Homo sapiens: one gene and its partners. The protein of the gene in region 5 purifies or fractionates together with the protein of the main gene of each other region. This does not show direct contact. Each region holds a gene or a part of one and is shown on either strand. Other genes may lie near its edges. The genes, in order: YBX3, WAC, VRK1, NNT, SLAIN2, LOXL2 and LYSMD2.

Region 1 (3,500 bases), on a different chromosome or scaffold from region 5:
ATGTTGGAGGAGGAGGAGGAAGAGGAGGCAGAGAAGGACGGAAGGGTGAGGATTGCTGAAGAGAAGTCTCAGTTGCAATTTTACCTGTATTCTGTTGGGATGGGGTAAGACCCGTGAGCGACGGTCAAAGGTCTGTCCCACGTGGTAAGGCGGGAACCGCCGCTGCCGGTACTGAGGGCGATACTGGGGGCGGCGCAGCTGATTCCGGGCCCCAGAGAACTGCCTATCAGTGGCAGGGGGGTCAAATCCTTCACTGCTGCCGCTCCCTTCCTCCTCCTCCTCCCCAGCGTACTAGCGAAGCAAAGAAACAGAGATTCAGAAGAAGTTTTAGCAAGGAAAGAACCAAAGAACACCATTTAGGATGAATATCACCAAAATAAAATCTCCCCAAAGCAATATAATCCTTTCCATTATACAGACAAAATGCATTTAACCCAGATTATCATGTGATTGCCTGGGATAAACTACATTAAGATTAGAGTAGATCTGTGCAGATAAAATACCAAGAAGCAGAAAAGCAAGAGCAATCAATCTACAATCAATTTAATAGTCATCTCATTAGAACTCGTATCAGCTAACCAACCACCCGAAGAGTATCTGCAAGGTTTATAATTTTTGCTCCATCAAATGCGTGTCTCCCAGCATTTACCATCCACTGAGGCAATGTCAGGGAAAAGCCAAAAAAGAATACATTTTATGATGTTACCAACATATTTGACCCAAGTGGTATTCTTCCTACAAGTCTGTAAAGTGTGGATGGGATTTCTGAAAACTTCCAGGGGGTCAGCGAGGTCAAACTATTGCCATAATATTACTAAGATGCTATTTGCCTTTCCCAGGCATTCTCTCAGAAGTATATGGTGGGGTCTCCCAAAGGCTACAATGACATGTGGTCTCTCAGCAGACTGAATGCAGAAACAGATGTGAGAATCCAGCTATCTTCTATTAAACCATACATCAGAGATCTGCAAAAGTATAAAGCAATACCACTCTTTTCAATTTAAATATTTTTTTTCCATAAAAACTGTTATTTTCATGAACATATAGTTATTTTTAATCAATTAACATTTTAAGTTTATTTTACTTTCTAATATAATATTAATATAAATAAACATTGACAAAAACTCTAGAATCCTCAATAACATGTAAGCATATAAACAGATCCCAAAATCAGGAAGTTTGAGAACCACTGACCTAAGGCATGACTCCCTTTATATGTTTAGGAGTAAAGCTTTAATCATACTTTGATGGTAGTAAGCCCTAATCCTGGAGGTTTCTAAATAATAGATCTTATTAATATTCACAAAGGAATTTACCGATTCATTTTATATTTTTCTTCTATTTAAATTATATCATATACTACCATTTTACATTTTAAAAAACCAAACATCCTACAAAGACTGTGATTTCAAGTCTTACTTTAAAGGGGATATGCAAATGTCTTTAATGGGAAGTAACTAGTTTTTAAAAATGAATAAATAAAAAAAGCAAAATAATGACCCATTACTTTTTTTTACAGGAGTGTATTTAAGCTTTGGACCCTTCCAGAACAAGTCCACATGTGCAACCAAACTCCCCCTCCAAAAAAGCCTCAACTAGTCTAACTTCAAAAAAAATCAAGTCATTCTACTCTTCATAAAACCTCTACCAAAGATGAGATTCACAATTATGTAAACGTTTATTTGCACAGAAAATGCTTACCAAAATATTAAGTGTGAGACAACATAAACTGTTTTTCTTCTTGGGCTTATCTTCCTCTTTTGCATTTCACACAATCAAATCTTTAAGAGTTTTACAAAGCATAATAATGGCACCAGCAATGCTGAACACACTCTTTTGAGAGATACTGAACAAGTTGTTGGGACTTAGATATTACAACAAAAAAGCTCATTTATGTATACTTTAAGAGTTTTAACAATTTTGTTTCTTAAGCGTTTTAACAATTTTGTTTCTAAATATCTTTTATATGCATGACTTTGGAATTTTCAGGTTTTGGACAGGAAAAGTCTTTAAGAAAAATTTTTCACTGAATGTTTTTCTACCACTTTTGCTTTTGAATTAACCTGGGAGTCAAAATAATCACAGTTAGCGCTCTGTGACTCTGATGAACTTCAAAGAGAACATGATGTAGGAAATGCTACAGCAGCTCATTCCTAGCTATCCCCCTCATAGCTTATTAAAAACCAAATAAGATAAGCAAAAACAAAGAAACAAGTGGGAAGTCCTAAGGAATCTGACAGAATTAATTTGGGCAGGATGTGATGATGGCAGAATAAGGAGGAAAAGCATTTAGGTAAACAGAAAGATATAAAGCTATCAAAACATAAAGATAGGTCATTCTCAATCTGCAGATATTTAATTCTGATGAGTTTTTCTTTGGATGAGACAGGCAGTCACAATCCTGTGCTGACAAACATTCGGAGTTTTCTTCAATGTGCCAATACCTGGTTCTAATTCTAGAAACACCAAGAATGATTCAAATCTAGTAAGTTTCTCATGACCACAAATATACTGGGTCCGTTTTGGGTGCCTTGAGAATACTCCTATAAACTGAGCCTCCCAAGAAAGCTCCAGCCAGATTTGTGACAAACTCTTTCCCCTGCATTGAAACCAACCTAAAGAACTAAAAATCCACAGAATCACTTATTGCTTCTTTACTTTGAAATAATGGAAAAATGCTATGCTAAATAAAACAGCCTCTTAACCAAGGCAAATTCGTTAATAGTTCTGTGGCCTGTACTTTTATTGCCTGTTCACAAGTTATTTCTCACTCTTTCACCAACCAAATTTTGATTTTCTTAGAGGTCAACAGTGTCGGCACCAAAGAATGAACAACAAGGTTAAGTCAATGATGGAAATCCATTCCCCTTTGCCAGTGAATGTCTGTGACTAGGTTCTGGCCAGAAAAAAGAGCCAAATGAAGAGAAACCTTGTTAAAAAAAACCTCAGCACTGTCTCCCTTAAGTCTTCCTGTTAAAAGATAATTAAATGTCTATTACTTGTAGCCAAATATATCCTAACTGATACAACTTCTGAATGGCAAGTGTCTAATGAGACCAGCGGCTCTGGAAAAGTTCTGAGCGCTAAAATTTCCCCTTAAGAGTACCGTGTATACTGCTCCAGTGATGGGTGCACCAAAATCTCAGAAATCACCACTAAAGAACTTATTCATGTAACTAATCACCACCGGTTTCCCAAAAACCTATGGAAATCAATAATACACATTTTAAAAAATAAGATAAAAATTTCCTCTAAAGAAAAAATAAAAATCACTTAAATCATTTGTCTCCAGGAGAAGACAAGGCATTTATCTGCTCCAAGTACATACACTTAATTCCATGCATGAACAATTTCTCAATCACTGGTTAAGTAACAGAGACAACGTACATTCCGGGGAGGGCCACGGCGCCTTCCATAGTAGCCACGTCTGTAACGGCGCCGATCTGCAGCGTAACGACTCCCTTCCACAGGAACTCCATCCGGGCCAGTCACATTGGCAG
Region 2 (3,500 bases), on a different chromosome or scaffold from region 5:
TTTTCAAATTATTTTTGTAGAGATGGGGTCTTGCTATATTGCCCAGGGCCTAATTCAATCCTCCTGCCTTGGCCTCCTAAGTGCTGTAATTATAGCTGTGAGCCACCGCGCCCAGCCTTCTTAAAGGAGTTGAAATGCTCAGTTTACAAGTGACTATAAAACCAATACTACCACTTATTTCACTTTTAACCACTATTTACTATACTCTTAAAATGCCACCCTGAAGACAAGTTCTAAGCTCCAAAAATAACATCTCTTTTGCCAAAACTCACATTTTAATTCTTTCCTCCTTAAAATACTGGCAAATGATAAGGAACTGCATAATAAACTAACAACTGTAACTTGGAATTTTAAAAATCAATCTAAATTGACCCTAAAACATGCAATGATCAATGGCCAAGGTAGGGAAGGGATGAACAAACGGGAAGACTTAAAAGCTGACCAACCACCTCTTTCAAGTTATATTTCAATGCATTTTTATTTTTGGGCTTCTGCTTAATATCTTACAAAGAATTATTTGGCATTAAAAAGTCTGAAACAGCCCACTGTTTCAAAACTACTCAAAAGAAATTCCCCCTACATTTACCATTTAGACCAGCAATTTTCTAACTGCACCTATGGAGCCAACCATGTAAGATTCTGCTGGGACAAATACAGGCAATATAAGCTTAGTAAAATGGGTCCCTGTATTCACAAACACCTAGGTTTCAAATTCTGACTCTACCACAAAAACTTAACTGAGAGTTTGATTTTCTCATCTATTAAATAAAGCAAGTGATTCTCACGATGTGAAAGCTAAACATACATTAAGTTCTTAGCACAGAAACTGCCTCATTTTTGAAATACAAATATGGAAAAGTCACTGGAAAACATGTTCATTCATGTCTTTTGGAGTTTGAAAATTCTACAAATATTAAGACTCAGTATATCCTCTTTATCTCACTCTCCATGTGACAAATCCCAAAACCATTAGGGAACAGACTCAGATGGTTTATTAAAGTAGCACAGATTCAAAGCCCCCCTCTATCCCTCAGTGAACTGAGAAATTCTAGGCTGCATCTACTATCATACCTGTCATTCATTCCACCACTACACCTCATTCTCAGAGGGCTTTTTCTATAACAGATTCTAAAATGTTATTGACTTTCCAAAAGTAAGTAGTTTCTTTTCCGAATGTCCCTCAAAGGTGACATACCTTTGGCTGTGATGAAACAGGAGGAGTACTGATCAAAGGTTTGATAGGGACTGTGTTAGTTTGAGGTGTGCTTATTCTTGGAGAAACATATGATCTTGGGGATGACGCATCAGATGTTAAAGACATCGGAGACTGATTAGATGGCTGGGCTGTAAAAGAGGGAAGCAATTAATTTTAAAGAAAAACAAAACAAAACAAAAAACTAAAGTCCTTTGTAATATATGTGGCAAAGATATTTGTATTACTCTAAACCCCCCCACCCCCATATTACCCAGAGAACACTTATTGGAATAAATCAGAATCTGACCTTCTCACTGGGCCACACTGACTAAGTGAGCTGTGTGTTCAGAGGTAAGCACACCCAGTGTGGCCCACTCTCCTTTATGTGGCTGGAACAGGAAGCTAGGCCTGAACCTAATCTCACATGGAAGGCCTCCTCACCATCCTTATTTCTTCTTTCTTATTCTACATTTAGGCCCAGGTATCCCACGCAGTCTCCTGCTCATGAGGCTAGCCAGAGGGTTGCAAGAGTCTTTGCACCATTATACTTCCATTCCAGACAAGGCATTCCTGCTGTTTATCAGCTTTCTGACAAAGTGACCCTTTCACTTCCCATTTGCTCCTATGTGTATCTCTCTCCATTTGGATACCTTCATGAAGAGGGATATCTAATTCAAGGCAGAAAATGAGCATTTCCATATTATCCAGTCAAAAAACATCTAACGTCAATCTGAACCAAACTTCAACTCTTCAAATACATGCAATGTTTCACAAAGATATATGGCACATCATAGTTTACTTTCAGCTTTGGCATAAAAAAACTCATTAATAACAAAGTCTGAATTAAATACTGTCTTAAATAATTACAGATTTGATGGCAATACCTTAAGACAAATGTCAAAGCTTGCTTCATCTAAAAAGAAAGGAAATAAAAATACTACTGTATATGCCAGTGTTACAAAAAAAACAAAATTATTGTAGCTAATCTCTTAAAAAACTAAAAAAAAAAATGAAAGAAAAAACTAAATACAAAAAAGGGCTATTAATTCCAAAACAAAATCAAGATGCCATTCTAGAGATATCTAAGATGAGTAAGAATACCTTGTGTAGAGAGCTGAGCAGCTTGAGAAATCAGAGACGTTATGTTGAAAGCAGATGGTCCAGCAGTAAGAAACTTATGAATTATAGACTGCAGTGAGGCTTGTGTCACAGCTGCTGTAAGAACTAAAAACATATTATTTCATACATTCATATAAAAACAAGAGGCTTATGTGGCATTAGTAACAACCTGACAAGGAAGAGAACTCACAAGAAACTGGAATATTTCAACCTAGAACTCTCAAAATAAAAGCCTACTAGATAGGAGTAATACAATGGGTCCCAAATTTGAAATGATCTGAGGCAGAGAAAAAGAAACTTAATGGGTTTACAATAAAGGTAAACCAACAGAGTTTCTTTTACACTAATTAAGATGATCACCTGAACAAAGTCTCTCTACAAAATTTAACGAGTGTTCACAGGAACTTCCAATTATGTCAGAAACCTATTCATATGTGAGTGTTCAGTATGTTATATGGAATTAACTGGATAAACAACTGCTATTTCATGTGATTGCCCTTTTAGACAAGCTGGCCATTCAAATCCTATATCAAGATCCACCCTAATAAATCTAAAAATGGATACAAAAAAGGGAGTATTGGCCGGACATGGTAGCTCACACCCAGCACTTTGGGAGGCTGAGGCAGGTGGATCGCCTAAGGTTAGGAGTTCAAGAGCAGCCTGCCCAACATAGTGAAACCCTGTCTCTACTAAAAATACAAAAAATTAGCTGGGCATAGTGGCAGGTGCCTGTAATCCCAGCTACTAGGGAGGCTGAGGCAGGAGAATCGCTTGAACCTGGGAGGCAGAGGTTGCAGTGAGCCGGGATTGCACCACTGCACTCCAGCCTGGGCAACAAGAGCAAAAACTCCATCTCAAAAAAAAAAAAAAAAAAAAAGTATTTAGGAATACCATGTATTTTTGATGTGTAAGATATTTTATTATTGACATTAACTATTATTTCTTCAACTATTTATTTTGGAGACAGGGTTGTGCAATCACAGCTTACCATAGCCTTCACCTTCCAGGCTTAAGTTATTCTCCCACCTCAGCCTCCCAAGTAGCTGGAACTACAGGCGTTCACCACCACACCTGGCTAAGTTTTTGTATTTTTAGTAGAGATGGGGTTCACCATGTTGCCCAGGCTGGTCTGGGCTTAAGTGGCCCACCAGCCTCAGCAAGTGCTGGAATTACAGGCATGAGCCAC
Region 3 (2,364 bases), on a different chromosome or scaffold from region 5:
GGAATGAATCATGAAATTGTTCATAAATGTGTTAAAATTACAAGCTTCTGTTCCCAAGGCAACTAAAAACATTTCAGATCTTAAACTTTCTGATCACTGAAACTCTGAAGTGCTTGGTTTACTGTATAAATATTACATGCTATGAAAGTGAAACTTTTAAGAAAAATAAACTTCTGTGAATGAACAATAGGCTCTATCTATTAATATCTAGTTCATAGGACTTCCGTAGATGAAGCCAGTCTTTACACAATCTTTAATCACACCACCATTTGATCATCTGTCACTTGTTTTCTTGTCATACGGCTTGCATACTGACATAATTCTTATGTAATCTTTCATATATGTAGATTTTCTCTCTCATGGATACGCTTCCTCCACTTTTTATTTCATATTCCTTTCCTGTCTTTGTACCTCCTGTCTCATACAGCAGGTGTTTAATAAAAGATTTTGGGAACAGAACAAAATCAATACAAACCAAACCTTACAGCCACAACATACTGTGTGTTTGCATCAAACAAAAGAGAGTTTTATTTTAAGCTTTGCATTTCCTTAAAAGTGAGGACTTTGTCAAACATTTTTATCCACTCTGAGAAATGTACAATGATTAGAAAAGTGCGTGTCATAATAATTTTCATATATATGTACTCCAAAACATCACAAACACACGGCTTTGGGATAACTTAAGGAGTATAACCTGAAGATTTTCAAATTTCATAAATTAGCCTTTAATGAATTGTACAAAATATTTTTATAAAAAAAGTTTATGTTTTCTGAACACATGAGTATTTAATCATTACTTCCACCTCGCAAGACTCACAGGAAAATAAAACAGTTCAAATAGAAAAGGAGAAAAAAGTCAAAAGAAAACAAAGAAAAGGAAATCTGGTTCACAGCATCTGAATTACTTCTGGACTCTCTTTCTGGTTCTTGAACCTTGAAGAAAAATCAAAGAAACTGAAATCACTAGTCAATAATTTACAAAAGCAAAAGAACAGAAATATAAATATCCCTAAATATAGTTATTAACATTTTAAAATCAAATCGACTCTCGTGATTTGCAAAGATAAAACTGACATACAAAGGTATGATTGCTAATACTCTGAAAATCTTAGAAAATTGGGTCATTTTTTAATATGTCAAAAAATATGCTGACAAAACCTACCTTCTCTTAAGCCATATAAAAATACTGACTGATAAAACGTATCTAATTTTTACTAATACTGAAATATTTCTCTCCAAAATTTAAATTTGTTGTAAAATTTAAAACATTATCTCCAAATATAAACCTTAGCAATATAGATAAGCATTCACTCCTAAGGTGGAAGCGATGAGGTCACACATGTTATGAAAAGCAAAGCAATAAGTTGCTTTTTAAAGACTATTAGCTACACCCTTGAGGCAGGAGAGCACTGGGATATACTGAAATGGAAAGTCTTTTCCGCTAGGAATTATACAGGTCCCAAATGAGTAGCCTCCTGGAAAAGGATCATATGTGATACTGGTCTAAGTCCTTTATGACAGTACCTATCTAACTATTCTGGTTTGGAATAAATCAATGACTCTCTGCTGGGGGCATGGGAATTCTGCCTCACCAAGACATTTCACCCCACCTACTACTCCTACTCCACCTCTGGGTACAGCAGTTAGCCTGATCACGGCTGCCTAGTGCTGGTGAAAGAAGCAGGGCCATTTCTTTCCCACTGCCGCATGCTACGCTCTGCCAGGAAAGAGCAGGGGCACCAGAGTCAGGGACAGCATGGTGCTCATAATTAATCAATGACTGCACGAAAAAAAACAAAAGATCAATACTTCTTTTCTGAAAAGTACGAAACATTCTTTGAATGTGGAACAAAATTCTACCATGTGTATCTAAAGGTTTTCTGATCATGGGTTTTAGTTACTTAACATGAAGGTCAGTTTCAAAACTAGCATTTTTAATTTTTCCAAGTTATAGTTTCTATTCAATCATACAGTTCAATGAAAGCAAATTTCAAGCTTATATGAATATCCTTTTTTCTGCCACTCATAATACATACCCTATATACTGTACTATGATTGATTCTAAAATTTGAGTTTTTTTCTTAAATTTCTGTAACACGGCCATCTATTAAAAATATCCCACAGTAGATTTTTAGGTTTTTATTTCAAGAAATTTTATTTTTATTATTATTATTTTTTTTTTTGAGAGGGAGTCTCGCTTTGTTGCCAGGCTAGAGTGCAGTGACACGATCTTGGCTCAGGCAACCTCCGCCTCCTGGGTTCAAGTGATTCTCCTGCCTCAGCCTCCAGAGTAGCTGAGATTACAGGTGCCTGTCACCACGCCCAGGTAATTTTTGTATTTTAGTAGGACTTAGACTTTCACCA
Region 4 (3,500 bases), on a different chromosome or scaffold from region 5:
ATTTTTTAAAGTGCTACAATTTTTCTGTTTTAAGCACATCTTTATCACCTAGGAACAAATATAATTTAAAGTAACATTTTGCAACCTCAAATTTTTTTTTTTGAGATGGAGTCTCACTCTGTTGACCAGGCTAGGGTGCAGTGACACGATCTTGGCTCACTGCAATCTCCGCCTCCCAGGTTCAAGCTATTCTCCTGCCTCAGCCCCCCGAGTGGCTGGGATTATAGGCTCGCGCCACTATGCTGGGCTAATTTTTGTATTTTTAGTAGAGAGGGGGGTTTCATCGTGTTGGCCAGGCTGGTCTCGAACTCCTGACCTCAGGTGATCTACCCGCCTTGACCTCCCAAAGTGCTGGGATCACAGGTGTGAGCCACCGTGCCCAGCCAAAATTTAAAGTCATTCTATTACTCAAGCCAGTTCCATTAGAGAGGTGGGGGAAAAAACACTAAATATATTCAGGAAGAAAACTTGCTATCAGAATGCAAAACTATTTCTGCATGACTAAAAGGAAAAAAAAGCCATTCAAAAAGCTTGAGAATGTGAAAGATCAAAGATTGGTATCTTTTCCTAGTAGGTTGTTACATTTGTAAAACCCTATAATAAATTATAAAAGAAAAAAATACCATATCAACAGGCACCAGGTTTCTTGGACACATTAAAGAATTGTTAGCTACAAAATAGCATCAAATGAGTCTCACACATGAGTGATGTGCTAGGCTTTCAGTTTCCAGTAACAAACCCTGGCTGGGATAAGGCAAAAGACTAAAATTTTATCTAAAATTATACTAATTTATAGATGTTACGGTGATAGCTCTAACCCAACTTCAAAACTATGCATTCAATAACTTTCCAGTTAACTTGTAGCAAGACATCATTTTGTTTGTTTGTTTTGGGGATCTGGGGGTTGTTCTTTTATCAAGAGTTTCTAAAAATTACAGATGGGCAAAATAACTAATTTTCCTGCAAAAAGAGCATTTACGGTCAGAGTGAAACATTTTTTGAAGGCACAATTATGTCTATTTTATATGGATTTATATTTGCTTTGTATGTCTCCATTGAAAATAGTACTGAGACCTTTCACTGACATCATACCTGCAATGTTGACAGAGGATATGAATGCAGCAAGAGCAGCAAGGCCCTGAGAAGTTGTGGAAGGATACAAATGTCCTCCCATCAGTGCCAACCCACCAACTGCAGTCAGCCCTAGAAAGAAAGCATTAACATGGTTAATAGTGATAGTGACACCACCAAATCAAATATCATAGCTGAAGTACCTCACATACATAGATTCATAGAGGGTAAAGTTCTCAATATTAAAAAACAAGGCAGCTTTCTTACACCCTCATTAAAATGAAATAAACAATTTTGCTTATGCAGACTGTTGACAACACATCTTCACATCATTCTCACTGAAATTACTACTGTGGGAAAAGGGTTAACAAAACTTTTTCTCCTTCTGCATTGGAATTGGACTTTCTTTTAACTTTCTAGCGATGTTCCTCTAATACAGATATAAATCCACCAGTGTTATAGACAACATTGCTTATGGTTAAAAAGTGACCCTGGTAGATAATTTGCATGTAAACTGGAAGAAAGTATTCATGAACTGTAAATGCCTGCTGGGGATGCCTAGCTTTGGGTTTTCCTGACTACAGCACCTCTTGGAGCTAGACATGTTCCCTGCAGAGATCCTCGAAGCTGTGCCTATGGCAATGTTATAAAAGATGACTATTGGCCCTGAGGCTTTCAAGCCAGGACAGCTCCTATGCTTGTCCAATGTAGGACTCATTCTCTCATATCTGACCCATTGCTAGGGGACAAAGAGAATAGATCCTGGGCAACCACATGGACTGCTGCATGAACTGCTGAAAAGACCGGCACCAAAGAGAAATGCCTGATGCCACCTCACTGGAAAGCTGTGTTTTCCTGTCCCATAGCTTCATGGTGAACCTGATGCCACATGGGGCCTATTGTAGCCTTGCTAGGCTGAATGCTGAGTTGAATCCAAGGAGAGCCCTATAGGATGTTGCAGCTATGATTCTGTGGAACACTGGTTTTCAAATTTTATCAGTGGAATCCTTTTCTTTAAAAAAAAAAAAAAAGGATCAAACTTGGAAGAAATAACAGTGGCTCTGCACTGCTTGAAATGGGAGCAGCCCAAAGAGCTGACACACTCCCACGGCCTCTTACTCTGCAGGCCCATATCCCATACCCTCTCAGAGTCTGGGAGCCCTTAGATCACCAAAGCAGATGACTCAGATGCCAAGCAAAACAACTTGAAAACACACTTTATAAACGGCATTGATAGTCCTCCTAGAGCTGAGTAACCCTATGAAAACCTGAGATGAGGAAAAACAAGAGAGGAACAAACCTGAGATTGCATTTGTCACAGACATCAGTGGTGAGTGGAGAGCAGGGGTCACTCCCCAGACGGTATGATACCCCACAATGCCAGCCAAGCCAAAAGTGGTCACCATCTGAGAAAAGGCTAGATTGGGAGCCGCAATGCCCAAACCCAGTATCCCTGTGAGACCTAGAGAAAGAGAGTAAAGAGTGTGTTTGAGCTGACATCCAGTTATCTCAGTAAGATTAAAAGCACATACATAAATATGTGGAATAGCCAATGCTTTTAAATTCCACTCCCTTGCCAGTAATGAGCAGATTTTTTAGACATTTGACAGTTGAGAAGTGGGGGGATGGAGGAATACTGTGGACAAAACCCAACTTTCTGACCACCCCCCCAAAATAAGCTATAAAGATCTAGTAATATTTATGAGTCACACTAATAACAATTTGCACATTTTCCTCTGTGTAGTTTGTCCTCTTCCCTGTTTTAACTTTTATTAACAATGCCACATGTGTTTATATAAGCATTTTTATTCCCGATTACAGGCCTACAGAGGATCTACCAAAGCATTTTCTACTTGGGCAAGACACAACCTTTATAAGACAAGACTTTTATGAAGGCAATTTTATGTCACTCTCAGATTTGGCTGAGGAATAGGGGTTTTAAAAGAGTAGGAAGAATTTCATTCACTCCAGCACCTCCCCAAAACATATGGCTTCCACCCACCCGGGACACAAATTTTGCAATTGCTCCTGAATCTGGACTGGACTGTTGGCCAGGGCAGTCAGCTCCAGCCTCAACACCAAGTCAGCAAACAGGATTTTACAAACAAAAGGAAAAAAAATACAAATTAAATTAAGAATGTGCAGAATACAAACAGCTCTGAACATACATCTTTAATTATCGCCTTCCTTGATAGCAAACATGTGGACAGTTGTTCTGCAACAGAAGAAAGTGTTACCTAGTGGTCAGTAAAAAGAAAATGACAGTGGGTGACCAGGGAACTAGAAGTTAACTTTCCTGAATAAGGTACCTTTTTCCTTGATGTAAACTATTACTTTGGAAGTGGCACCACTGGAATATCTAGGGATTGACATTAATTTTACATTAAATCATTCAATATGACTGTAGTTTTAATTTATTTTCCTACCCA
Region 5 (3,500 bases):
TTTTGAAAAATAGAAATAAGAATACCTACTCATTTAATATTATTATGAAGATTAAACAAAGCAAGCATTTACTTATTTAGCACAGTGATAAATATTTCCAGTTTAATTATATTTGACACCAAAGTTTACTGATGGTGGTAATCCCATTCTTGAAAGGTTACAGATGCATCATTCCCAACCTGTCTGATTCAGAATCATCTGAAGATTACGCAAACAAACAACAAACAAACAAAAAAACCAGCAACTGTAATCCCAGCATTCTGGGAGGCTGAGGCAAGCAGATCACTTGAACTCAGGAGCTCCAGACAAGCCTGGGCAACATGGTAAAACCCCATCTCTACAAAAATTAGCCAGGCATGGTGGTGTGCGCCTGTAGTCCCAGCTACAGGGGGTGCTGAGGTGACAGGATTGCTTGAGCCTGGGAGGTCAAGGCTGCAGTGAGCCAAGATTGCACCACCGCACTCCAGCCTGGGAGACAAAGCAAGACCCCATCTCAAAACAAAAACAAAACAAAAACAAAAACAAAACAAAAAACAACAACAAAATACCTAGCACACCCACAGATTCTGGGCCTCATAACAGATCTACTAAGTTAGACTCTCTGAAGGTAAAACTTACACCCTACATTTATATAAATCTCACAGATAATTCTGAATTATAGAATAAGGGTTTGAAAACCATGCTTATAGATTATACTCAGACTTGGTAGCTAGAAGTTTTATCTTAAATATCACTCTATATTCTAATATACCTTTATCATCTTTATTGAATATAATTATATTCGAAATGAATGAATATCACAATCAAATTGAGAGGCTCTAACAATTTTTTTTCTAGGGGTCCTCTGAGATGCTTAATCACGTTAGGCAACTGGACAAATTTAATCTGAACCAAACTGGTAAAAGTCCCAAATGAGGATTTCTTAAAAACAATGTAGTAAAGTTTTATTCAAATGGTACTAAAACTCTGGTGGGAATCCACCATGACTTTCTGTTTACTATCAAACATACGGATGAAGCTAATTCATTCCAGTCTATCCACTTTCAGGCACTCAAGAATGCTGAAACAGAACATCTGCCACTTACCTGCGAACAGGCTGTGCAAGTTTGCTGCGAGGCACTGGTATGCCCCCAGCAGAAGGGGCACTGGGTCTGGGCAAGCCACTTCTCATTGCAGTTGTCCCTGCAGGTCTGGTTAGAGTAGCGCTGTTGATATTGCTGGGAGGATTTGCTGAGACTGTGCTCTGAACCATAGGAGGCCCAGGTGAGGAGGTGGTTTGTGTGAGCTGTGTTATTTCTTGGCTACCAGGAGAACCAGAGCCATGGTTACTAAATGCTTTCACTGGTTGCCGAAGAGCCAAAGGAGATGGTGCTGCAGGGGAACGGAATTTGCCTGGAGAAGGTACTGTGGGATGGCAAAGAAAAACCAATTTTTGAGTGGAAATCTGTATATATGAAACCATTGCTTTAAATTACAACTGATGATTGGGCACTAGTACATGTGTATTCAGGAAACTTCACAGCAATGCAAACAATAAAAGCTATTCCTGGGCTACTAAAAGAAAAAAAGTAACTGTGAGTTCTAAATGACCAAGTACTTAGAGGATTACAACTGTCTTTGACAACAGTATTTTAAATAGGCCAGCTTGGAATCCATAATACCAGAAGAGAAAAGGCACTGCAGGATTCTGTCTCACAGTAGCAACTAATGTGGGCCACATATGAACAAACATTCTAGAGGTGAAAAACAGGTTGACTACCCAACTGTTGTCTAGAATTTGAAATGTATTTCCCCTGAAAAGAAACATTCACGTAAACATGTATCAAGTATCTGGAGGCTCTATGTCCAAATCCCATATTACTGACACTGTAACTAAAAATTTAGAAACTAAAAATCATTTTTAAAAAGTGCTTCCATTGCTGTGCTTCACAAAGCACAACATGATGAAAAAACAAACAAAAAGGCAGCTGGGCATGGTGACATGCACCCATAATCCCAACTACTCAAAACTGAAGCAGGAGAACTGCCTGAACCAGAGATGCAGAGGCTGCAGTGAGCCGAGATGATGCCACTGCACTCCGGCCTGGGTGACAGAGCAAGACTCTGCTTCAAAAAGAAAAAAGAAGATCAGGCGTGGTAACTCACACCTGTAATCCCAGCACTTTGGGAGTCCGAGGCGGGCGGATCACCTGAGGTCAGGAGTTCGGGACCTGCCTGGCCAACATGGTGAAAAACCCATCTCTACTAAAAATACAAAAATTAGTTGGGGGTGGTGGTGCATGCTTGTAGTCCCAGCTACTTGGGAGGCTGAGGCAGGAGAACTGCTTGAACCCAGGAGGCGGAGGTTGCAATAAGCGGGGATCGCGGTACTGCATTCCAGCCTGGGCAACAGAGCGAGACTCTGTCTCAAAAAAAAAAAGGAAAACAGAAAAAAGCTTATGTCCACACAAAGACTTGACTACAACTTTGTAACAGCCAAAGACTGAAAAAAGCTCAAATGTCCATCAACACATGAATGGATAAACAATTTGTAGCATATCCACGCAACAGAATACCGCTCAGCAGTAAAAAGGAGTAAACTACTGATGTATAGAACAAAGATGAATATCAAAAATTTTGCTGAATGAAATGAGTGCCAGACACAAAACAGTCCGTGTGTACATACACACACACACACTGTAGAATGTTGTGTTATAAAGAAATTTGAGGAAAGTCATATCTAATTTATGGTAACAAGCAGCAGAACAAATGTTTGTTGGAGGTTGGGAGCAACCTTGGGAAATTCCACCAAATGTTTAAGAATGAACACAAATTCAACATAATCTCCGTCACAAAATAGGAAAGAACATGTCCCAATTCATTTTATGAAGCCAGTATTACTGAGATACCAAAACTAGAAAAGGACAGTATCAAAAAAGAAAACTTCGGATCAATATTGTTTACAAATATAGATGTAAAAATCCTTAAAAAAATATTAGAAAATAGAATCCAGCAATATATAAATAGATTTATATGCCATGACTAAGGAGGATTTATTCCAAGATGCAAGGTTGGTTCAATATTTGAAAATCAATCAGTGTAATCCACAGTAACAGGATGAAGAAAAATCACAGAATTGTAACAGCGGACTCAAAAAAAGCATCTGACAAAATTCAACACAGTCATGAAAAAAGTTCTCCGAAAAACAGAAATAGGGAAAATTTCCTCAACCTCATAAAGAACATCTACAAAAACCCTACAGTTAACATTATACTTAATGAAGAAAGATTGAATGCATCTCCCCTAAGACCAGGAACAAGACAAGAACATACGCTCTTACCACTAATTCTAGCCAGTGCAATAAACAAGAAAAAAAAAAAAGAAGAAGAGGGAGAAGGAAGGAGAAAGAAGGAGGAAGGAGAAAGAAGGAGGAAGGAGGGAGGAAGAGGAGGAAGAGGAAGAAGAAGAAGAAGAAATAATAATAAAAGGCACAGAGGTTAGAAACTGTCCCCATGGTTGTC
Region 6 (3,500 bases), on a different chromosome or scaffold from region 5:
TGGTCACCCAACAGACATGGAACTGCCTCACTCCAAGGCAGATCATCCCTCCATGGGCAGCTCTGGACAGCTCTGACTACAGGAAAGTTAGCCAGTCCTTCCTCAAAGGTAGTGTGCCATGACCAGAAGAATATGATTAGCCTACTCCTCTGCATAGGGTTAAAATAAAATACCTTATGCCCCCACCTAAGCTTCCACCTGCTCATCCTGGTTTGGGGCCCTGCATGTTTCTCCACAAGACACACGTGTGCTCCTTTTAAAATCGTCTCCTCTTTTCTCTGAATTACGGGAGGACCAAGATACACGAGGTCTCTTGCTACATGATTTCACTCGGGAATTCTTAGAGGTAGGCTCCACCAGATACGATGACCAGGACCTTGAGGATTTTAAAACTCATTTAGCATTGCAGCCCTCAAAGCTGACGGGAAAATTATAATTCATCTAGCAAATGTTCCTGTAGTGTTTTGGGGTGCCATTCATTTAATGGAGGGTGGGTGTGTTGAACATCCTGCCCTCACCCCTTCAGACCCGCTCCTTCTCCACCGGCCCCCATGTTCCAGGAGGCTGTCCCACACGGGCTCCCTCAATGGGCTCAGCTCCCTTGCCAGTGGCTTCGAGTTGAAGGGGGCTGGGTTTGCCTAATAGGAGGCACCAGAATGATTCAAAGACGGGAGGAAAGGGAGTCAGGTATTTATTCTCCCTCCCATGTCCCCGCCGTTGCCATGGGTTGGCTCTGAGACCCTCCAGTGAGGGCCACAGCTCCTAAGAGACAGCTCCCTCTGCCAGTCTCCAGTTCTCACCCCCGCAGGCTCCCTTCAAGCCTAGGGTGGTCACAGCCCCCTCTGAGTCGCCAGCCCTAGGGTGTGACACCGGCCTTTGTTAGTTCTGCAGAACTCTGCCGGCATGTCCGTAGTCTTAAAAAACTCTCCTTAAATTAAGTTGGAGTGTGTTCTGTTCCCTGCCAGGAACTCTACTGGAAAAAGCATTCTAGAGAGATGACAAGGCAGTAGGTAAAGGAGGTGGGACCTCCCAGCCCTGCATGGTGGAAATGTAGGAGTGGGGCTGGATTGGCGTCGAGAATGGACGAGCTTTCCATATTAAGCCAAGGGGTATGAAATCGCTGGTTCTCTATGTAGGTCTCCGTAGCCCCACGTTCCCATCCTAACGCATCTCTCCTCTCTTCCAGAAAGCTCCTGCTGCTTCTGTACCCCGCCTGTCCCTCCCAGCTGCGCAGGGCCCCTTCGTGGGATCATCAGCCCGAAGACAGGGATGGAGAGGCCTCTGTGCTCCCACCTCTGCAGCTGCCTGGCTATGCTGGCCCTCCTGTCCCCCCTGAGCCTGGCACAGTATGACAGCTGGCCCCATTACCCCGAGTACTTCCAGCAACCGGCTCCTGAGTATCACCAGCCCCAGGCCCCCGCCAACGTGGCCAAGATTCAGCTGCGCCTGGCTGGGCAGAAGAGGAAGCACAGCGAGGGCCGGGTGGAGGTGTACTATGATGGCCAGTGGGGCACCGTGTGCGATGACGACTTCTCCATCCACGCTGCCCACGTCGTCTGCCGGGAGCTGGGCTACGTGGAGGCCAAGTCCTGGACTGCCAGCTCCTCCTACGGCAAGGGAGAAGGTAAACGCTCTGTGCTTTGGATCTGAGTGCTGTCACCTGGCAAGGCCCGGAGTGGCCTTCCCTGAGGTCAGCCTGGGAGAGGAGGCTGCACGCACTGCGAAGTGTAAATTCTTGGTGATGCCCATCCAGGGACTGGCATCCTTCTGTGCCCACTCAGGCTGCACCCTGCAGGAAGGCGGGGTCGGGGGGCTTGAGGAGGGGCACAGTAAGTGACCAACCATACTGATTTGCCCAAGACTTTCCTGGCTTTAGCACAGAAAGTCTCACATCCTGGGAAAACCTCAGGAAAACCAGGACAGTTGGTGACCCCAGGTAGGGGGTGAAATCGGCCTGTGCTCCTCTCTCCGCCCCATATGCCCTGCCTGGGGGCTGCGTCAGCCCAGAGGAAGTTGCGCTTTACTCCAAATCGTTCCCTGTTAGGAAAGCCTCTTGCTCTTCCTCACAATGGCTCCCACATGCTGGAGCTCCCTGACGCCCCCCACCTTCCTGGCATGTGGAGTTCATCGTTTTCACACTAACCTGCTATTGTGGGCTTGGTCACAATAGGCACACAGATGCTTTGGGTTTTTCACCGTTGGTTAGCCTATTCTTTCCTCCCTTGTGAGGTTCAAATTTATTAGTTTATTTTTAAAAATTGTTTTAAGAGCTGGCCAGGCGCAGTGGCTCATACCTGTAATCCCAGCACTTTGGGAGACGGAGGCGGGATGATCACTTGAGGTCAGGAGTTCGAGACCAGCCTGGCCAACATGGGGAAACCCCATCTCTACTAAAAATACAAAAATTAGCCGGGCATGGTGGCGAGTGTCTGTAGTCCCAGCTACTCAGGAGGCTAAGGCACAAAAATCGCTTGAACCCGGGAGGCGGAGGCTGCAGTGAGCCGTGATCGCGCCACTGCACTCCAGCCTGGGTGACAGAGCGAGACTCCATCTCAAAAAAACAAAAAACAAAACAAAAACCCAAAAAATTGCTTTAACAGCTTTGAGGCAGGACAAAGTTTGAAGCCCTGAACCTAGAGCTCAGTCTGTACTGACCTCTGACACCACACTTTGTAGGAAGACGCATGTCCTCTCCAGCCTCATTTTCCCCATCTGGAAGTTGGGCTAAGAACCCCTGAAACCCTGACAGTGTATGTTCCCAAATAGGAAAGAGATAAGGGTGGAGGGAATTGTTTCTTTTTAAACATTTTTCCAGGAGCTAAGAGTTTCCTATCTCTGGGTCAGCCAGGCAAAGGAAGCTCCCACACCCTCCCGCCCGGCTGAGCTGCAGCCCAGACCTCAGCACAAGTCTGGCTACTGGACTAAAGCAGAGCTGCCTATACTCCTGTCCTGGACTAAAGGGCTAATGCCATGCTGACTGCGTAAGAATCGCCCAAGGGAGCTTAAAAGTACAGAATAGCGCAGACCTCAACCCACCATAATCTAGTTTAAAAGGTCTGGGCTGGAGCCCAGGACTCTGTCTCTTTTGGAAGTCTGCAAAGTGACAGGTTTGGGAGTCATTGAAATTGATAACTGTTATCCTCCCTTCCAACTTTTCTGTTATTCTAGAAATTATAGGAGAAAGGAAGTCCCATCTCATACACATCTCACCTCCATGCAATTGAAAATTTCCTTTTGGGGTAACTGGATCAGGAGACAGCACAGAGTCAAATGTTCTCTGCAGCTTGCTCTGGGCGATGAGAGCCACAGCAGTGAAGTTAGCAAATGCTGGGCTTTAGAACCCACTTCCTGTCTTCTTTAAACAAACGTCCGATACTTCCACATCTCTGTTTATCCGGCTGGCTGAGCGATCCAGGGGTAACCTCAGATTCATGTTTTCCATTCCAGGCTTTCCAACGCTCATTATTTTATAACAAATGCTTTCCAGTGACTGGGTATTT
Region 7 (4,288 bases), on a different chromosome or scaffold from region 5:
ACAGTTGGGCAGGTGGGAAAAAGGGACCATTGGGAAGAATTAGGAAAAATCTCATGGAGGATGTATCATTTGAGACAGACCTTAAAGATTTAAACAATGTAATAGAGGGTACTGGAAGAGTGTTACCATTGGAGGGAATAACATGCAAGGTATGAAAGTAGGAACAAGGAGGCCAGTTTCAGAGGCTCTGTTTGGCAGGAATATGTAGAGTATACAGAATGAGTTATAGATGGGGTATGGTCAGACCATGAATAATAAAAATAGAAATAATAGCTTGAATGCCAATGTAGGTTTTTAGTAATGCTGTTGTCCCCAGAGAGCCATTGTAGGAGTTTTGAGTGGGATGGTGTTGTGGAAGCTTGCTCCTCTCCCATCCTTTCTCTCCTGAGCAATATTAGCTTTGCCTCTGTCCAGCACAGCAACATACCAAAACTTCAGCCAACGAATCAAACCCCCAGGCTCCGGACCTTCCTACAAGGTACCTCTTCTTGGAAAGCTGTCCAAAATAACACAGAAACCAGGCACTAGATGCTAGTAAATGTGTACCCACTCTGTGTATAATACAGTGTGTTGAAAGGGTGTTCAAGAGTAGACGGTGTTCAAATGAAGAGTACAGATAAGAGGTCTTTGGTGGTTATAATATTAATAGCAATACGGGGCAGGGAGATGCGATTTCAGGGTGTCAAAGAATAAACTGACGAAGAGAAGATGAATGCAGACAGTAAATTCCAACTACTGAGCCTGGAGAATGAATTGTATGTGGCCAGCCTTTCGAGGCAGCCAGGACTTAAATTGGCACTAGTGTACAAAGTGTGAAACCCGAACAACTAGGGGGGTTATTTTGAGGCCACCCATTAGGCCTTAGAAGCACTATCCCTCCTAGTGCAATGTTGAAAGGACTGGACTCTGAGGCTGTTGAGATGGACCTGGAGAAGCTGTCTGTGTGTGTTTGATGATCTTAAGTTTTACTGTGACGTGGACTTTGAGGTCACTGGGGTGGGGGGAGGGAAGTACCCTTGGCATTGGCAGAGCTGGAAGGTCTGTGCAAGCTGGCTCCTGCTGGGGAATCAATAAAGGAGGCAGAGCAACGCTTTTTTTTTTTTTCGCCGTGGCCAGGGCAGGGTTCTGCCAGGGCTCTATCGCCAATGGAGCAGGGGTCCACCTGGGGCCTAGGACGCCTGCAGATAGCCCTCTCTTAGCCCCAACGGCCGCGGGCTTCAGCGCTCCCCGGCTCCCTCGCTCTGCAGGGTCTTCCCGGTACCGGCAGGCCGCGGCGGGAGCTGCTTTCGCTCTTAACCTTGCAGGTGCGTGTGCCGCGGGCGCCCGGGGCAGGCAGGACGCAGAGGAGGAGGCGCCCGCCATGCCCGGCCTGCGGCTCCCCGCCTCGGCTTCCCGTCCGCCGCCCCCGCGGAACGGCCTGCTGCAGCCCCTGTGAAGAGGAAGAGGCGGCGGCGGCGGCGGAGGAGGAGGAGGCGCCGCCCCCTTGGCAAGCTCCCCGACCCGGCGGCCTCGGCAGGACCCATGGCGGATTCCTCGCCCGCACTGTCCCTGCGGGAAGGCGGCCCCCGCGCGCCGCGGCCCTCGGCCCCCTCGCCGCCGCCGCGCTCGCGCTCCGGCTCCGAGTCCGAGGAGGCCGAGCTGTCGCTGAGCCTGGCCCGCACCAAGACCCGCTCGTACGGCAGCACCGCCAGCGTGCGGGCGCCGCTGGGCGCCGGCGTCATCGAGCGCCATGTGGAGCACCGGGTCCGCGCGGGCGACACGCTGCAGGGCATCGCGCTCAAGTACGGTGTCACGGTGAGCAGGGCGCGCCGCCGCGGCCCGGGCTGGCAGCTACCGCGCAGGAGGCGGTGCGGCTCGGGGTGCGGTGGGGGTGGGGGTGGGACTGCGGGTGGGGGTTTGGGGGATGGGGAGTCGCAGGGACGGCCGTGCGTCCCCGGGCGGCTCGGCTCCCAGGGCTCGCTCAGCGCGCGCTGCTGGCCACCGCAGTGGTCGCCAAAGCTGGTCCTGCAGCGGGAGGGGCGGACCGCCAGGGCTCCCTCCCTAGGTAGCTGCATCGAGTTCCCGGTGCCCCGCCCAGGCTCAGACTAGATCTGTCGCGTGAGGGAGGCCGAAGAGGACTAGGGCTTTGGCATCCCCGTGAACCACCTTCACCCAATTTGCAGGCCCCATCACACTACTCTATATTTACGCAAAGCCCAACTGAGGTGAATTTTGTTGTCTGTGAAAACAAGCTCCGTGATGAGTCAGGAATGGTGCAGTTGTTCCTACTGGGTGGTTCTGGTTCTATCGATTATGCTTCTTTATGTAGAAGTGAAATTACACCCTCTGGGCTCACTGGCAACCGCGAATGTGACACCTGTCGCTAAGCAGCAGCCAAGAACTGTGGTGAGCTGGAGGGCTGCGTTTATTACAAATTTATAAGTGTGTGTGTCTTGGGTGTATAGCATTACACCTCTGGGAAGAACATGGAAACCTGAGGGAACAAATTGTTTCATTAAAATTACTTATAATTAACTGTGAGCTATGTGATGGCCTTTTTACATTTGGGATCTGTATCAGTTTTCAGTGTTCTTTCCTGAAGCACCTTAGACAGCAATGGGAAGAAAGAGGATCTTATCTATATCTTTCCCTTAAAGTGAAACTCTTTCTGGCCCTTTACCGAATGAAGGAGCATCAGTATGAAGGAGAATGTATTTTGCATATTTAAGCCGGTATATGTTTACCTATCAGGTCCTTCTATCTTTGAAATATTTTGAAAGGGACCTTGCTGTGCAGTCATGTATTGACTCTATCATGCCATGGAGAGCCCCATTCTGCCCTCTTGGGAGTTCTATACATGTGAACATAGAGCTACAATTCTCTATGTGCCTTAATGGGGCCTGGTTTGAGTCAGAGGCAGAGGAAAGCGAAGTTGGGAAATACCAGTAGCTACCCTCTGCTGAATGCCTCCTGTGTGGCAGGCATTGCGTTTGTCTTGTTTCATCTTTATCTTATTTAACTTTCACAATAAGCCCAGGAGGTAGGTGTAATTAATCTTTTTACAGATGAGAAGATGGATGAGAGGTAAGGATATTTTCCAAGTATGATCATTCATTGAGACCAGCTTGAATTAACAGTGATAAAGCATTTGCTTTCCTCTAGATATTACTTTTGATATCCATCCTTATTTTTATCTTAGTCTTATCAGGAGCTCTCTCAGCATCCTGGCTACTGAAGGAGGACAGTCTTTTCTATCTGGTTTTCAGGCATCTTGCCTTACTAGGCTAGTGACAGCACCTAAAAATCTATGACATGCAGAAGAGTGTTATTTCCCATGCTGTCTTCCCGTGCAATCTCTCTGTGACCCACAGCCGTCTGTGGTTTCACTTGAGTTGATTATAGATAACTCTTATACATCTGTTTACTGCAGTTTTCCACCTTTGATCAAATGCTTTCTAATCCCTGTTATGTCTAATATAGATCCTATTACTCATAACCTCATTACCCCTTTTTAAAATTAAAGTGTAGATCAGATTTTTCGTTGCTTTTATAAAGACTTTTGATTTTAAGATATTAAACACAAGGATAATGAATCAGGAACTATAATTGATAGTGACACATAGTTCATTACAGGGTTTCCCAACCTCAGCACTGTTGATGTTATAGACCAGATAACTCTTTGTTGCACGGGGTTGTCCTGTGCAGTGTAGAATATTTAGCAGCATCTCTGGCCTCTACCCACTAGATGCCAGTAGCACTCTCCCACCCCTATTCAGGCATTGCCGGATGTTCTCTAGAAGGCAAATTTACCCCTGGTTGAGGACCACTGGTTTATTACATGTATTTCTCATTACTTTGGGCCCTGGCTTATAGTTGATAAAATTTTTAGAGACTCCTCCACTGGTAATATAGAATCAGTGAAAGTGATAATACTTACCATAACAGTGAAGTGATATTCTTGTTTTAATATCTTCAGATTTTTTTTTTTTTTGAGACAGGGTCTCACTCTGTTACCCAGGCTGGAGTGCAGTGGCACTAACATGGCTCACTGCAGCCTCAGCTGCCGCTGCTCAAGTGATCTTCCCACCTCGGCCTCCTGAGGAGTTGGGACTACAGGCTCAAGCCACATGCCCAGCTAATTTTTGTATTTTTTGTAGAAATGGGGTCTCATTATGTTGCCCAGGCTGGTCTGGAACTCCTGGGCTCAAGCAATCCACCCACCTCAGCCTCCCAAAGTGCTGGGCCTACAGGTGTGAGCCACTGCACTGGTCTAATATCTGCAGATATTAATTAGGTTTACTCATTGTGA

The links.
Region 1: the proteins of SLAIN2 (region 5) and YBX3 purify together in Homo sapiens (affinity purification with mass spectrometry; one large-scale study listed by BioGRID and IntAct). This does not show direct contact.
Region 2: the proteins of SLAIN2 (region 5) and WAC purify together in Homo sapiens (affinity purification with mass spectrometry; one large-scale study listed by BioGRID and IntAct). This does not show direct contact.
Region 3: the proteins of SLAIN2 (region 5) and VRK1 purify together in Homo sapiens (affinity purification with mass spectrometry; one large-scale study listed by BioGRID and IntAct). This does not show direct contact.
Region 4: the proteins of SLAIN2 (region 5) and NNT purify together in Homo sapiens (affinity purification with mass spectrometry; one large-scale study listed by BioGRID and IntAct). This does not show direct contact.
Region 6: the proteins of SLAIN2 (region 5) and LOXL2 purify together in Homo sapiens (co-immunoprecipitation; one study listed by IntAct). This does not show direct contact.
Region 7: the proteins of SLAIN2 (region 5) and LYSMD2 purify together in Homo sapiens (affinity purification with mass spectrometry; one large-scale study listed by BioGRID and IntAct). This does not show direct contact.

Annotation. Positions count from the first base shown.
Region 1 is NC_000012.12:10,709,824-10,713,323, forward strand, and holds part of YBX3 (Y-box-binding protein 3), read right to left. Parts: coding exon 3,388-3,500; intron 966-3,387; coding exon of another isoform or gene 936-965; exon of another isoform or gene 528-935; intron 292-527; coding exon 85-291; intron 1-84. UniProt on the Homo sapiens protein: Binds to the GM-CSF promoter. Seems to act as a repressor. Also binds to full-length mRNA and to short RNA sequences containing the consensus site 5'-UCCAUCA-3'. May have a role in translation repression.
Region 2 is NC_000010.11:28,609,618-28,613,117, reverse strand, and holds part of WAC (WW domain-containing adapter protein with coiled-coil), read right to left. Parts: intron 2,420-3,500; coding exon 2,297-2,419; intron 1,864-2,296; exon of another isoform or gene 1,637-1,863; intron 1,345-1,636; coding exon 1,196-1,344; intron 1-1,195.
Region 3 is NC_000014.9:96,879,746-96,882,109, reverse strand, and holds the end of VRK1 (serine/threonine-protein kinase VRK1), read right to left. Parts: intron 934-2,364; coding exon 902-933; 3' UTR 501-901; downstream 1-500. UniProt on the Homo sapiens protein: Serine/threonine kinase involved in the regulation of key cellular processes including the cell cycle, nuclear condensation, transcription regulation, and DNA damage response.
Region 4 is NC_000005.10:43,648,180-43,651,679, reverse strand, and holds part of NNT (NAD(P) transhydrogenase, mitochondrial), read right to left. Parts: exon of another isoform or gene 3,498-3,500; intron 2,534-3,497; coding exon 2,372-2,533; intron 1,204-2,371; coding exon 1,093-1,203; intron 1-1,092. UniProt on the Homo sapiens protein: The transhydrogenation between NADH and NADP is coupled to respiration and ATP hydrolysis and functions as a proton pump across the membrane. May play a role in reactive oxygen species (ROS) detoxification in the adrenal gland.
Region 5 is NC_000004.12:48,418,029-48,421,528, reverse strand, and holds part of SLAIN2 (SLAIN motif-containing protein 2), read right to left. Parts: intron 1,405-3,500; coding exon 1,086-1,404; intron 1-1,085.
Region 6 is NC_000008.11:23,366,121-23,369,620, reverse strand, and holds part of LOXL2 (lysyl oxidase homolog 2 precursor), read left to right. Parts: intron 1-1,186; 5' UTR 1,187-1,269; coding exon 1,270-1,624; intron 1,625-3,495; exon of another isoform or gene 3,496-3,500. UniProt on the Homo sapiens protein: Mediates the post-translational oxidative deamination of lysine residues on target proteins leading to the formation of deaminated lysine (allysine).
Region 7 is NC_000015.10:51,734,856-51,739,143, reverse strand, and holds the start of LYSMD2 (lysM and putative peptidoglycan-binding domain-containing protein 2), read left to right. Parts: upstream 1-1,488; 5' UTR 1,489-1,521; coding exon 1,522-1,794; intron 1,795-2,081; exon of another isoform or gene 2,082-2,204; intron 2,205-4,288.